Regions from separate parts of the Homo sapiens genome. Here region 1 is linked to region 2. The links come from fine-mapping of genetic effects on gene expression. A gene starts in region 2. The other region holds a variant in brackets. All regions are shown on one strand. Distances are between the middles of the regions.

Region 1 (8,340 bases), 250 kb before region 2:
AGGCAGGCGGATCACCTGAGGTCGGGAGTTTGAGACCAGCCTGACCAACATGGAGAAACCCCATCTCTACTAAAAATACAAAAAAAATTAGCCAGGCGTGGTGGCACATGCCTGTAATCCCAGCTACTTGGGAGGCTGAGACAGGAGAATCGCCTGAACCCGGGAGGTGGAGGCTATGGTGAGCCAAGATCATGCCACTGCACTACAGCCTGGCCAACAAGAGCAAAACTCCATCTCAAAAATAAATAAATAAATAAATATATAAAATATAATAAAATAAAATCCTGACAAGTTGAGAAATGAACAGTTATTCACTCAGCAACTGGTGGATTTATTCATAGAGATAGATGTAACTGATTTTAAATGTAAATTAATTTTAGTATAGGTATAAGTATATACAATGTATTTAAATATAAGATACGTGAATATATATATATATATATATATATAAAAACTTCCATTTTTGGCCATAACAGAGTAAACAGACTAAATTTGTTTTCCTACCATATACAACTGGAAAACTGAAAAAAATATGTAAGATACCACTGGACCACAGGCAGTACAGGACTGTGATCTTTGAGAGAAAAGAAACAAATGAAGTGAGTCCTATAATCACCCTGGTTTTCTACTGAGAGGCAATTTCTGGACCACAAAGCAGGTAAGGAGATGGACATAACAACAGATGAGACAAGTGAGGAATAAAACATCAAAAAATTTGGTAACACCTCCAAAATTACAACTGAAGCAGACAGGAAAAAAGCATGAGAGGAAAAAGAGATTAGCATCTCAGTGACCTATTGGGCAATATGCAACCTAATAAATGTATAATTGGAGTCCCAAAGAAGGAAGAGAAAAAAATATATGAAAACGTTAAGACTAAAATGTTTCAAATTTGTAAACTATAAACCCACAAATCTAAGAAGCTTAACAATTTCTGGCAGAAAGAAGCACAACACCACATCAAGGCACACCACAGTTACACTGCTGAAGACAAGAAACAGAGAAAATCTGTAGAAATGCCAAAGAAACAAAGACACATTACATAAAGAGAAAGATCGCCAATTTCCCATCAGCAAGAATGCAAGCCAGAAGACAATAGGACAGCATCTTTAAGATGACAAACAAGAGGCCAGGCGCAGTGGCTCACGCCTGTAATCCCAGCACTTTGGGAGGCCATGGCAGGCGGATCGCCTGAGGTCAGGAGTTTGAGAGCAGCCTGGCCAACATGGTGAAACCCCATCTCTACTAAAAATACAAAAATTAGCTGGGCGTGGTGGCAGGAGCCTGTAATCCCAGCTACTCGGGAGGCTGAGGTGGGAGAATCGCTTGAACCTGCGAGGCAGAGGTTGCAGTGAGCCAAGATGGCACCATTGCACTCCATCCTGGGCGACAAGAGCAAGACTTCATCTCAAAAAAAAAAAAAAAAAGATGATAAACAAGAAAGCCATCCATTGAGATACACAAAATTAAAGTCAAAATAAAGATATTTTCAGATAAAATAAAGCTGAGATAATTTTTCACAAACAGACCTGCGCTGTAAGAAATTGTTAAAGGAAGTTCTTCAGGATGAAGGAATATTATACTACATGAAAACTCTGATCTAAAAAAGGGATAAGGTGGGCATGGTAGCTCACACCTGCAATGCCAGCACTTTGGGAGGCTGAGGTAGAAGGATCATCTGAGCTCAGGAGTTTGAGACCAGTCTGGGCAACAGAGTAATACCTTGTTGCTACTAAAAATAAAAAAAAACATTAACCAGGCATGGTGATGCATGCATGCCTCTAGTCCCAGCTACTCCGGAGGCTGAAGCGGGAGGATCTCTTGAGCCTAGGAGTTTGAGGCTGCAGTGAGCTATGGTTGCACCACTGCACTCCAGCTTGGGAAACAAAGCAAGACTCTGTCTCAATAAATAAATAAGGGATGAATATTGTGAGAAATGGTGACTAGGTAGATAAATATAAAAGATATTTGATTTCTTGTTTTTAAGTTTTTTTAAAAGATAATTTCCTATTTTAAGGAAAAATAATAACAGTGCTTTAAGGTGATTATAACACAAACACAAGTAAATATACATGACAACAAAAGCACAAATAATAAAAGGGGAGAATAGAAGTATAATGTTATAAGATTCTTCCATTATAAAGTGGTATCATATAATCTGAAGACAGACTGTAAAAAGTTAAACATATTATAAACTTTAGAGAAACCATTAAAAAATACAAGAAACAGTATATACCTAATAAGCTAGTAAAGGAGAAAAAATATTATAAAAATACTCAAAAAAAAGAAAGGAAATGAGGAACATAGGAACTTAGAGAAGACAAAAAATATGACAGACATAAAACCAACTGTATTGATAATTAAGTATAAGGGGTCTAAATATTATAATTAAAAGGCAGAGATTATAAGACTGGATAAAACAGCAAGATTCAACTCTATGCTGTCCCTAAGAAATACACTTTAGGCTGGGCGCGGTGGCTCATGCCTGTAATTCCAGCACTTTGGGAGGCTGAGGTGGGAGGATTGCTTGAGACTAGGGGTTTGAGATCAGCTTGAGCAACAAAGTGAGACCCTGTCTTAAAAAAATAAAAAAAGGAAACACTTTAAACATAAAAATACAGATAAGATACACCACGCAAACATTAATCGTAAGAAAGCTGGAATGGCTATATCAGAAAAAGTAGACTTCAGGACAAGAAATTTGACCAGCGATAAAGACAGGTATTTCATAATTAAATAAGGGTCAACTTATAAAAAAAAAAAAAAACTCCTATATACATATATATCTAAAACAAAGCCAAAACTGACAAAACTAAATAGAATAAATTGACTCATGTTTGGAACTTTTAACAGTCACCTTTCAATAATTCAAAGACTAAGTAGAGAGAAAATCAATAACCATATAAAAGACTTAAACAATAGCATAAAAACCAAACTGAACTAACTGACATTTACAGAAAGTTTTATTTAAATGACAGAATACACATTCTTTTCAAATGCATGCGTACTAGTCCCCAACAAAGATGTGTCAGACCATAAAACAAATCACAGTAAATTTAAAGGGCTAAAATCATACAAGTATGTTCTCTGAAGAAACAGAACTAAAGTAGAAAAGAATAACAAAAAGAAATCTGGAAAAATCCACAAGTATTTGCAAATTTAAAAATATACTCCCAAATAACCCAGGGATGGAAATGAGAAACCATTTTGAACTAAAAGATAATAAAAATGCAACATATCAAAATTTGTGTAATGCACCTAAAACAATGCCTAGAAAGTTATAGCTTCCAATACTTATTAGTAAAGCAGGAAGGTTGAACATTAATGATATAGTAACTTGCACCTTAAGAAGCTAGGAAAAGAGCAAGTTACACATGACGTAAGTACAAGAATGACAGTCATGAAGAGCAGAAATCAAAATAAAACCAGAAAAAGGTAAAAAAGTATTGAAATGAAAAGTTAATTCATTGAAAAAAATCAATAAAATTGATACGCCTTAACAAAAAGAAAATGTAAGTTAACAATATCAGTAATAAATTATGGGATATCACTAGATATTCTATAGATATTAAAAGAATAATTAGAAAATAAACATGAACAATTGTATGTCAATAAAACTGACAGGTAATGAAATGAACAAATTCTATGAAAGATACAAATTCCCAATTATGACAGAAGAAAGAAAAAGTTGTTAAAAATGAAGACTAAGGAACATTTCCAAACTCAGCTTGTAAATCAAACAAAACCAGAGAAAGACATTACAAAAACAAATAAAATTACCAACTACTTTTATAAACAGATGTAAAAAACCTTAACAAAATACAAGTAAAGATAATTCAGTCATATACAAAAAGAATAATGCATCATGTCTAAATGGAATTCATCCAGATATTAAAATTGGTTTTCAACATTAAAAAATATATATATATAATTCACTATGTAAAGAGAATAGAAAAGGCCAGGTAGGGTGGCTCATGCCTGTGATAGCACTCTGGGAAGCTAAGGCAGGTGGATTGCTTGAGTCCAGGAGTGTGAGACCAGCCTGGGCAATATGGCGAAACCCTCTCTATCAAAAACACAAAAAATTAGATGGGTGTGGTGGCATGCACCTGTAGTCCCAGCTACCCAGAAGGTTGAGGTGGGAGAATCACCTGAGCCTGGGAAGGCTGTAGTGAGCTGTGATTGTGTCACTGTACTCTCGCCTGGGTGACAGGAGTGAGACCCTGCCTCAAAACAAAAAAAAGAAAAAGTAATGTAATCACAACACAGAAAATGCACTTGAGAGCATTCATCATCCCTTCAGCAAACTAAGAATAGAAAGGAACTTCTTCAAGGTGATAAGGAATACCTATGAAAAACTTACAACTAACATC[A/C]TACTTAGTGGTGAAATACTGAACCCTTTCTCTCTCAGACTAGGAACAAGGTGAACATGCTTTCTCTCACCATTTGTATTCAACACTGTATTAGAGGTACAACCCAGTGCGACAGTCAAGAAAAGGAAAAAGCATATGGATCTGAAAAAAGAAAACTGTCTTCATTTGCAAAAGAGATGATGGCCTATGTGGAAAATCCTAATGTACCTTAAAAATAAGCCACTAGAATAAATAAATTGTCTTCAGCAAGATTGTCAGACACAAAGTCAATTATACCAAAATCAGTTCACTTCCATAAACTAACAATAAATGATAAGCAAATAGAATTTAAAAAATACCATTTATAGTACCATAAAAAGCATGAATCATTTAGAGACAAACCACACACACACACACACACACACACACACACACACGGCCTACATACTAAAAATTACCAAACAATGCTTAGAGATGTTAAAGAATACCTAAATAAATTGACAGTTATACCATGTTCATAGACCAGAGACTCAATAGTGTCACAATGCCAATTCTTCTTACATTATCTATAGGCTCAATGCAATTCCAATTAAAATCATACAAACTTTTCTAGTAGAAACTGGCAAAGTGATTCAAAAATTTAAATGAAAAAGCAAAGACATTATAATAGTTAAAATAATTTTGAAAAAGAAAAAATAAAACTAGGGACTTACACAACATGATTTGAAGTTCTACTGTTAATAAAAGCATTAGGAATCAATACAGTGTAGTATTATTAGGATAGACATATAAATCAAAGGCACAGAAAAGAAATTCCAGAAACAGATCCATCCATAATCAACTGAATTTCAAAACAACTTGGCAAGTTAAAAAAAAAATAGAGTAATTTTTACAAATGCTGTTGAAACAACTGCAGGTATGTGAAACAACCATATGTGTGCTAAAACAACTGTATATACAGAAAAAAGTAAACTTCAATCCTTCTATCATACCATTCCCAAAATTAATTCTAAATAGATCTAAGACATACATGTAAAAGCTGAAACAATAAAACTTCAAGAAAAAAAATCAGAGAAAATCTTTGGGTTGGCAACTATTTTTTAGGATGCAAAAAACATGTACAATAAAGGAAAAAAAAAACCCTGATAAATTGGACTTCATCAAAAATTTTAAAATACCATCCACACTTACTAGAACAACTAAATCTTTTTCTTAAAGTGACAATATCAAGTGTTGGCAAAAATATGTAACAAATGGAATGATTTTAGGATGCTGGCAGGAGTGCAAAATATAGTCATGCACTGCACAATGACATTTTGGTCAACGATGGGTCACATATATGATGGTGGTCCAATAAGATTATTGTACTATACTTCTTAATCATTAATTTAGATTATACTCCTTCTACTTATTAACAAAAAAAGTTACTGTAAAATAGGCTCAGGCAGGTCCTTCAGGAGATACTCCAGAAGAAAGCATTGTTACCATAGGAGATGACAGCTCTATGTGTGTTATTGTCCCTGAAGACATTCCGATGGGACAAGATGTAGAAGACAGTGATGTTGATGAGCTTAACAAAAAATGTTTAAAAAGTAAAAATAAATAAATACATTTAAAAATGGAAGAAAGCTTACAGAATAAGGAAAAATCTGTACAGCTGTACAATGTGTTTGTGTTTTAAGCTAAAAGTTATTACAAAAGAGTCAAAAAGTGAAAAAAATTAAAATTATAAAGTAAAAAGTTACAGTAAACTATAGTTAATTTATTATTGAAGAAAGAAAACATTTTAAAATAAATTAGTGTAGCTTAGGTATACAGTGTTGATAAAGTCTACAGTAATGTACAATAATGTCTGGGTCTTCACGTTCACTCACCACTCACTCCCTGACTCACCGAGAGCAGCTTCTACTCCACCAAGCTCCATTCATGGTAATGCCCTAGGCAGGTGTACCATTTTTTACCTTTTATATTGTATTTTTACTATAGCTTTTCTGTGTTTAGATACACAAATCCCATTGTGTTACAACTGCCTACACTATTCAGTGTAGTAACATGCTGTACAAATTTGTAGCCTAGGAGCAACAGGCTATACCACATAGCTAAGGTATGTACTAGGCTATACCATCCAGGTTTGGGAAGTACACTCTATGATGTTTGTGCAATGATGAAATCAAATCACCTAATGGCATTTCTCAAAACGTATCCCCATTGTTAAGTGACCAATGAATGTAATACAACAACTATGGAAAAAGGTTTGACAGTTTCTTATAAGGCTAAACTTACAACTACTCTACAATCTCATAATGCCACTCCTAGGTATTTATCCAAAAGAAATGATGGTATATAGTCACATAAACACTTATTTATGAATGTTTACAGCGGCTTTATTAAAAATAGTTCAAAACTGGAAACAAGGGCAATATTAAAGATTGGTGAATAGATACAAAATTTGTTGCATAGTTATAAAATGGATTACTAATAAGAAGGAACTACAGATACAGGCAATAACACAAGCATTTCAAAGTATCATGCTAAATAAAAGGAGCCAGGTGCAAAAAATTACATACTGTATCATTCCTGTTATATGAAATCCTAGAATAAGCAAAACTTAACTTATGATAACATAAAGTGGATTAGCAGTAGCTTGTAGTGGAGAAGGGAGGGGACTGATTACAAAGTGACACAAGGTAACTTTTTGGGTGATGAAAATGTTGTTATAACTGAATTAAGGTAGTAGTTATACTGATGTATACACTTGTAAAAATTCACTGAATACTCTTAAAATGTATGTAGTTTATATTTATGTAAATTATATTTCAATAATATCAATTTTAAAAAGCTGGGAACAAACACACAAGAACAAATACGTATTTTATAAGTTAACTTTAAACTCAATATTGGTCTTTAACAATTAAAAGTCATTATTCATGATTTAAATATTTTCTGATTTCCCAACATAATATATAAACCCCTTATCACTACTATATTTATGAGATCTCTGTAACCATTCAGGTATAATATCAAAGCCATTTCAGCTATGAAGCTAAATATTTCCCCCAAAATAAGGCACTGAATTATCAAAAAGAAAGGTAAATATTTTTGTCATTCCTCTCTCCCTGTTCAATATAGATGGTTTTATATATAAACCTTGCTATTTACTATGATAAGCATTTCCACCCTACATTTCTCCTCCTTTTATTAACCAGAAGATAACTATTAAACAAAATCAGAATATAACCCTTCTTTAAAATTTATTTCTCCAAATGTTAAGCATTACGTTAAATTGATGACTTCCCTCAGAATGAGAATAAATAATGTTATAGAAAAAAGAAACTGAAAAGACTTTATGTTAATAAATTTTAATATTTAAGCCAAGTGGAAAAATTCCTATAAAAACTTACCCAACTAATCAAGAAGAAATAGAAAGCAAGAATCATCCTACAGGTATTAAATTCATAAATCGACAGTCAAAAATATTTCTACCTCAGGCTTACATGACTTCATCTACGAGTTCAGCCAATATTCAAGAAAGAAATAATTTCGTATTACACAAATTTTTCCACATCAAAGGAGGAAAGAACTCCTTAATTTGCTTTATGAAGTTAATATACCCATGAAATCAAAACCTGACATGGACAATGCAAAAAAGGAAAAGATTATAGGCCAATGTTATTCATAAAGACAAATGAAAAAATCCTAAACAAAATAGTAGCAAGTTGATTTTAACAATATATAAGGAGAATAAATCTTGACCAAGTTGGGCTTATTCCAGCGAATGTAAAGTTGGTTTAATATTAGGTTAAAAAAAAATTTCACCTACTAGATCAATATTTGAAAGAAAAATATTATATCATGTTAAATAGGTACAAAAAAGCAGTAATATACTTTAGCATTCATTTATGGTAAGAACTCTCAGCACATTGAGAACTGAAGGAAACTTCTTTGTAAGGGTATGTATCTACAAAACTCTTACAGCAGACATACTTAA
Region 2 (8,340 bases):
AAAAAAGAAAAAAAGTCAACCTTCTCATAAAGAGCTTACTATCTACATGCAAACGTATACTTCTGCTGCAAGAATGGCTGGGACTTGCAGAGGTAGAAAACTTCATTTGAGATAGCTGGAAAAGCTAATACAAAGGCAGTAGTTATAGAATTGTTTAAAAAAGGAGTCCGTATAAAAAACAGAAGTCATCTTTCAAATACAGACCAGACTCACAGTCTAGTTAAATGAACCGTAAGAAAATTTTGCAAAAAACAAAATAACAAAGACTTCCTCTGAATGTTGAAAATGTATCCAATGTCAAGCTAAATACTACTGTCCTGTATTAGATTCTCCATCAATAAAACACTGTTAAAATTATTCAACTTGATAATACCTTCAATCTTTTGTGTAAAATAAAATATAAAAATGCAACCTAAACCCCTAAAATGTTTATGAATTCTTCAATTAAATATAAACTTACTTTCAAATATAAGTCAGGAGAGGCCAATGTTTATTACTGAAATTAGGTACGTGACTATTTAAATCAACAGTTCTCAAGGAGGGGAGAAGGACAGGTCCCTATCACCAGGGGAGCATATGCAAATTACACCACCCACCCCAGCCTCCAATTCAGGTACGTCTTCTTGGGATGTGGGCAGGTAAGAAAAGGGAGTGGTGAGGGATAAAACATTTATCTCATATGATTATGAAACAGCTGCTTCTCCTCCAATCTGTGCCGTTTAAGAACCACTGGGCTAAATACATGTACTCGAACTTACAGATCTGAAACTCTCTAATTGCACACAAAGAAAACACAAAGTTGAGAACTGGGAAATCTGAGTTCTCATTTTGTCCTTACCTGTCCAACGACAAACAAAATTACTTCTCTGTGCCTCAATGAGAAAATAATTAGTATTGTATTAAAAATAAGTTATATATAACATCACAGAATTGTTCTAAGGATAAAATAAAACGTGAAGCATAAGCATATCTTTAAAATGTCCCATAAATGAATAAGAAATTATCATTATTTGAACTTGGGCTTCGTTTAAATATAAAAGCATAGAATAATTTGAATTGGTTCACAGTTTGACCTTGGGGCATACAAGACAAGACCCACAGCCAAACGGGGGGAAAAAAAAAGAAAAAAAGGATTCCTTGGGCCTTGCCTAATCCATATCATCCTACCCCAAGAGTCTGGACAAAATCAAACCTGGCTTGAGTTTTAAATCAGATTCTCATTAATTAATTCTTCTGAATATTAAACCTCACCAGAAAAAGAAATAATTAACTAATGAGATTCTTAGAAAGTGAAATACTCAGGACCACGGTGGCTCACACCTGTAATCCCTCCCAGCACCTTGGGAGGCCGAGGCGAGCAGATCACCTGAGGTCAGGAGTTCAAGACCTGCCTGGCCAACATGGTGAAACCCCGTCTCCATTAAAAATACAAAAAATTAGGCAGGTGTGGTGGCAGGTGCCTGTAATCCCAGCTACTACTCGGGAGGCTGAGGCTGGAGAATTGCTTGAACCCGGGAGGCGGGGGTGGCAGTGAGCCAAGACGGTGCCACTGCACTCCAGCCTGAGTGACAGAGCAAGACTCCGTCTCAAATACAAATTTTTACTCTTTTAAAAAAAGAGTTCCCAATTCCCTATAGCATAGCCTGCAGTGCACTGAACTTCATATGGTGCCTGGCCGACAGTGAATGTCATACAAGTATCTCTTGAATGACAATGATCGATTCCTTATTCCTCACATCTTTTACTTTATTTTAGTGTACTTACACGGAGGCTAACATGTTTGTGTTCGTTAAGTATACTAAAAATTAAAATGCAAACAGTGGCTAAAAAGACAACTAAATTATGCACACCCCACTTTGTTTTATTAGCTTATTAGCTACTCGCACTATCGACTGTGTAGAAGTGCAAACACTTCTCAGCCCCAACCATAAACTGCTTATTTATAAATAACAATCATATTACAGCCCAAATGTTCAATGAAAAACAGATTAATTCTGATAAAGAATAACGTACAAAAAAGCAGAAAGGTGAATAAAGACATCATTTTTCTGCAGGAACTAGAAACCGTAAGTCTAATCAATAACTTTCCTAACAGTTCCAACTTCTAGCTCTATCTTATTTAATAACACCAACTCAGACCATCTTCAACCCTGATCTGAATCAACTTCCCTCATAATGACTGTGCAAGCAGCCAACTTCCTACATGCCTAATATTTGATCAACAATTTCCTCAAAAAGGAAAGTACGAAACACTACCACTTCTTAAGCAGCTAGCTAACAGCAATTACTTCTCATAATCCTACCAATATCTAAAATCCAATAAAAATTCCAAAACACTCTCAAGCAAGACAATCAACACCACCTTTCACTTCATATGACTAACCTCTCTATCCCAAATGTCATGACTAAATGTTACTCTGTATCATTCAAGATGCCAACTATGACGACAAAATGTCTATACCTAGCATTTCTCAAGTCAGAAGTTCCAGTATACTCTGTTATCCAGTATAGTACAGTTACATCTGACACAGGGATGTTATTTAACAAACGTGGTTCTCTCTTTTCAAGACACTTGGTGGAGAAGTGAAAAATCTGTTAACAGACTTTGACTACAGTCGTCTCAACAGCCGATTCCTAAGTGGCCCATCCTTTGAAATGGAAGAAGATATTTACACATACATACGATAGGTACTTACATTATTATAAAAAGCATGTCTTTATAAGACATCCATGCTTATGTTTACAGCATCATCTACCATACTTCAAATAAATTTTGACCAACTCCACCCCTCTGCATCCGAGGAAGCTTAGTCCTCTCCATTTGCAAATTTCATTCATCTCAACAAGGACTCCTGATTGACTGAGTGTTCAATTCATCAGAGAGGCAAAAATTTTAAGACTCAACCTCTCTGCCAACTTTGTTATCCAAAACCATTTATTTGACCTTCCACCTCTTCCCTCGTCATTCGTTAAACTCCCTTCACTTCCTCCTCAGCAACACTTACCTACCTCTTTATTATCCCCACCCTGCCTCGCTACTCCAACATTCCTTCACCCCACCAACCAGGAGCTCGAATGCCTGCAAACGCTCGATTCCCTCTGCAGACACCACCACAGCACCAGTATCCCAAGCTCTCCAACAAGCCACCCCCACACCAGACCCCCCGCCCCCAAGCCTAAGCGGCAGAAACTCATAATTTAGGGACAAGGAGGGAGTGCTCTTCAAACCCACCATACGAAGTCGTTGCTTTTGTCCTCGTAGGAGTTGATGAGCCCGTTGCAGAGGGGGGCGAGGAGAGGTCGCTTCCTGCTGCCGCTGCCTAGGCTGGAGCTGCTGCCTCCTACGCCGGCGCTGGGCCTGGCCGCGCAGCTGTGCCGGGACAGGCCCGTGGACACCGCCCCGCCGCCGCTACCCGATACGGCGGGCGCCACCAACACAGGCCGCACCGGGCCCCCGAGGCCGCCCGAGCCGGCGGCCTGGGCCACCCCGCCGGACACCAGCGCTGCCGCCGAAACCGCCACGGAAGGCGGCGACGGGGAAGAGGATAAAGACGAGGAGGCGGAAGTCACCGAGGAGGCCGCCGAGGACCCGGGGCTTGTCCCAGCGGAGCCCGACCCGGCCTGGCGGCTACCAGACATCGTGACTCCCTCCCCTCCAGCCGGGCGCTCGGAGGAGAGGGACCGCGACCTCGACCCTCCGCCGCCTCCCCTCCCCTCAGCCTCAGTGCATCCTGAGGACGCCCGCCGAGCCGGAGGTGGGGCTGAGGAACAATAAAGTTGCGTTTTTTTTTAAGGCAGCCACACAACAGCGTCCCACGGGAGGGGGCGGAGGAAACTAAAAAAGCGGAGTAGAAGGCACTACCGCTGTCGAGGCCGCCGCCGCCACCGCGGTCCCTGTAGCAGCCAACCCCGGCGCGCCGTGGCCGGCCGTGCGCGCGCGCGCGAGCGGCGGAAGAGGCGGGCGTGGCGGGGGATACAACTGGGGACGCAGCGGGGCTGCGCTCAGACGCTCAGGGCGCGCCCTCGGGGTCGGGGCTCCCTGGCGAAGGGAGTCTGTCTGTCCCAAGCCGCTTTCGTTCCAGAAAACGTGCCAGAGGGCAGGCCGTCTTAATACAGTGAAAGAATTGAGGAGACTGGAATGAATGGTATAGGTGGTGGGGTGGTTTGAAAGACGGGAACGTAGCGGGCGGAAACTCTCGAAAAGCGACTGCGCAGGCGCGCGCCGGGCGCGGACGCTCACGGGTCACCCAGGGTATCCGCCCCAAGCGGAGAATATCGGCGCAAGCGCGGAGTAGCCGTGTCACGCATGCGTGCGAACGCACCACATTCCGGAACGGGAAGAAGGAGCTGTCTCTCTCTTCTGAGGGGTAGGCAGGTGCTTCCGAATCGCGGAATGTAGGTGCTCATAAGCTGGAGACCCACGGAAAGAACCTAGAAGCTCCGAGCGGTTGCAGACAGCACTGCATTGAGCCAACGACTCCTGCTCTACTGATGGTGATTCCACAGCTTTGTGAGGAATAAGTTAAGATGAAGTCAGTGAAGTTTTCTGCGAATTGCAAACATTGTAGCAAGTGTTACCAATTTTATTAGTTCGACCACGACTTCACTCCTATATTTTGAAAAGCTGTTTGCCAAATTGAACATAACAATAATGGGAAAACAGATTTTGCTCAATCAGACCCAGCTCAGTCGGAACCTAGGTTTATTGTGGATCTGATATAATTCTAGCACAAAACAAGGAAACCTAGCATTTAATACCACCAGAAAATATACAATTTCTGGTAGGCTTTTTTAGAATATTGAAAATTGATTATAGGCGGGCGCGGTGGCTCATGCCTGTCATCGCAGCACCTTGGGAGGCCTAGGGGGTCGGATCACCTGAGCCTGGAGGTGAGGATCAGGCTGAACCTGAGGTTAGAGACCAGCCTGGGCAAGATAGCGAAACCCCGTCTCTACAAAAAGTACAAAAAATTAGCTGGGCATGGTGGCAGCAGGCCTGTAGTCCCAGCTACTCGGGAGGCTGACATGGGAGGATTGCTTGAGCTGGGGAGGTTGAGGCTGTAGGGAGCGGAGATCCCTACACTCCAGCCTGTGAGACAGAGACCCTGTCTCAAAAAAAAAAATTTTTTTCATTTGCCGCATTCTAAGGGGTGGGAGTTAGAAACAACTGTGTGATTTTATCCTTTTCAATTCTATCATTCTATGATTCTTATATATTTATTTGGGAATAAAGTGTGAAAATACTCATGACTTAGTAAACTACGTGCGTATTCAAGGAGGTAAAGGAAGGCAAAGGTTTTTAAAATTTAAAAAAAAATGAGAATTACATAATTGTTTTTAAACCGTTATCCTTGGCTACGAAGATCAATAACAAGGTGACACCAGTCGGAAACTGGACAGGAAGTTGCTGGGCAGATGTTTTTGCGGAAGTATTTTTTGTGTAAGATTGTGGCTTTTGGCCAGGTGCGGTGGCTGAGGCCCATAATTCCAACACTTTGGGAGGCCAAGGCGAGTGGATCACCTGAGGTCAGGAGTTCGAGACCAGCCTGGCCAACATGACGAAACCCTGTCCCTACTAAAAATACAAAAATTAACCGGGTGTGGTGGCATGCACCTGTAATCCCAACTACTCGAGAGTGTGAGGCAGGAGAATCGCTTGAACCCAGAAAGCGGAGGTTGGAGTGAGCCAAGGTCGTGCCACTGTGCTCCAGCCTGGGCAACAGAGCAAGACTCCATCTCAAAAAAAAAAAAAAGATTGTGGCTTTTGCAGGTTTTTGTGATAGTTTTTGTCATCAGGTGTGCAAGCATGAGACCCCTTCTCTTCATGACCTCTGAATCTATTTTTCAGTGTTTTAAAAAATATATTAGTGACTACCTCCCACCCCCTTTTGTTTAAGAGATGGGGCCCCCCACCCCCTTTTGTTTAAGAGATGGGGCCCCCCACCCCCTTTTGTTTAAGAGATGGGGCCCCCCCACCCCCTTTTGTTTAAGAGATGGGGCCCCCCACCCCCTTTTGTTTAAGAGATGGGGCCCCCCACCCCCTTTTGTTTAAGAGATGGGGCTGGGATGCAGTGACTGTTCACAGGCAAGTCTATAGCACAGTACAGCCCCCAAATTCCTGGGCTCAAGCAATCCTGCTGCCTCAGCCTCCCAAGTAGCTGGAACTGTAGGTGTGTACCACCGAGCCCATATAATTCCATTTTGATTACGACAGCTTTCACGGAAATTAGGCATTAAGTAGGGTAAAAACATTTATAATGTTTTAAAGATTAATTTTTTAGGAGATTAATCTTTCAGAAGAGGTGGGAAATTAGGAACAAAGACTAGGAAAAATTAAAGCAGTTCGAGCGTAAATGATAAGATTCTAGATTAGGATGGTGACAAAGAAAGGGAATATTCTGAGAAAAACACTAAGGAACTGATGGTATAAAGTTTAATTACTCTCTGTAAAACTGTCTTTACCATCCTTGAGAGTATGACCCATATCTGTCATATTCATCACTGTCTATATCAGTGCTTGACACAATGGTCAATATGTTGATTAAGTAAAAATGATGAAACACAAACAGAAATGACTCCAAACATGACTTCTGGGTAACAATAACGTAGTGACAAGATTGGAGGTGTCCAGTAGATGGTTTAGTTTTGAATGTTTTGAATGAGTGTGGGATGAAAAAAACTCAAAGAATAGGCAGTGGTCGAAAACACAGGGTTAAGGCACAGAAGAAAGTTCAGCACATGAGAGACATTTGGAAGTTACTAAGGGCATAGTATATCATCATCAAATAGTTATTATGGACCTATTATTTGCTAAACATATTGCTTCCCCCATGATTCTCAAACATCGGTGCCCAGAAGAATCACCTAGAGAGCTTGTTAAAAACCAGATTTCTGAGCTCCACCTTATGAATATGCATTTGTACCAGCACCCAGGTGAATCTGAGGCAAGTGACTAACACTTTGAAAACACTGTGATTGGCCGGGTGCGGTGGCTCATGCCTGTAATCCCAGTACTTTGAGAGGTTGAGGTAGGTGGGTCACTCGAGGTCAGGAGTTTGAGACCAGCCTGGCTGGCATGGTGAAACCCCGACTCTACTAAAAAAATACAAAAATTAGCTGGGAGTGGTGGCATGCTCCTGTAGTCCCAGCTACTTGGAAGGCTGAGGTAGGAGAATTGCTTGAACCCAAGAAACCCAGGAGGCAGAGGCTGCAGTGAGCTGAGATCGCACCTCTGCACTCCAGCCTGGGCAACAGAGTGAAACTCCGTCTCAAAAAAAAAAAAAAACAAAAAACACAACACTGTCCTGTGATTGATAATGTAGAGAATGTGAAAGAGTTTCCTTCCAGGCCAGGTGCAATGGCTCACGCCTGTAATCCCAGCCCTTTGGGAGGCTGAGGTGGGTGGATCACTCAAGGTCAGGAGTTTGAGAACAACCTGGCCAACATGGTAAAACCCCATCTCTACTAAAAATGTAAAAAATTAGCCAGGCATGGTGGCGCATGCCTGCAATCCCAGCTACTTGGGAGGCTGAGACAGGAGAATGGCTTGAACCCAGGAGGTGGAGGTTGCAGTGAGTCGAGATCGTGCCATTGCACTCCAGCCTGGGCGACAGAGTGAGAGTTTCCTTCCAAGTTGCTTATGCTGAGGACTGCTGTGATTTGAATGTACCCACCAAAACTCAGGTTGAAATGTAATTGCCATTGTAACAGTGTTGAGAGTTGAGACCTTCAAGAGGTCTCATGATTAGGTCATGAGGAGTACTGTTAGTTATTGCAGGAGTGGGTTCCTAATAACTGGATAAGTTTGGCTCCCATCTTGCCTCTCTGTCTCTCATGCTGTCTTGGGCCTTTCACCATGAGGTGACCCTCCCCATATGCAGGCACCGTGCTCTTGGACTTCCCAGGCTCCACAACTGTGAGAAATAAATTTATTTTCTTTATAAATTACCCAGTCTGTTGTATTCTGTTATAGCAGCAGAAAATGGGCTGAGACAGAAAGTAGTATGACCCCAACTGAGAAGTCTCCTAGGGGGAAAGAAAAAAAAATCATCAGTTCTTAGTATTACCTCTTTGGAATGTATTTTTTATAAAATCTAAATTCACAAAAAGAAGCTGAGAGTATGTGATGCAATAGAGCTTCATTTTTGTACCAGATAAATGTACTGGCTGAATACATAATTGTAATGACTGAAAGTACACAGTCCTTATTAATTTCTACTGGCAAGATCTTCTGGGAAAGCAGAAGAAAAAAAGAGGAAGCATGGTGAAACACACACAACACACAAGAAGGAAGACAACTTAGGAGAAGTAACAAATAGGAGAAGAAAACAAGAAAAAATG

Evidence for each region. PIP is the estimated chance that this variant, and not a neighbour inherited with it, causes the effect.
Region 1: its variant is the best candidate, but not a certain one, in a credible set for the expression of COP1 in whole blood (INTERVAL, PIP 0.85).

Annotation. Positions count from the first base shown.
Region 1 is chr1:175,951,013-175,959,352 of GRCh38, forward strand. All of the region lies in intron 18 of COP1 (COP1 E3 ubiquitin ligase), which reads right to left. Among named protein-coding and RNA genes, the nearest start is that of MIR1843, 13 kb to the right of the region's middle. The variant A/C (reference allele first, on the strand shown) is at 4,374.
Region 2 is chr1:176,203,340-176,211,679 of GRCh38, forward strand. COP1 (COP1 E3 ubiquitin ligase) reads right to left here and starts at 3,947. Exons shown (of 20, transcript NM_022457.7): 1 at 3,233-3,947. The coding sequence starts at 3,639. It overlaps COP1-DT (COP1 divergent transcript), which reads left to right and starts at 4,326. Exons shown (of 5, transcript NR_185981.1): 1 at 4,326-4,532. RefSeq lists silencers at 3,385-3,744, 3,775-3,984 and an enhancer at 4,485-4,554.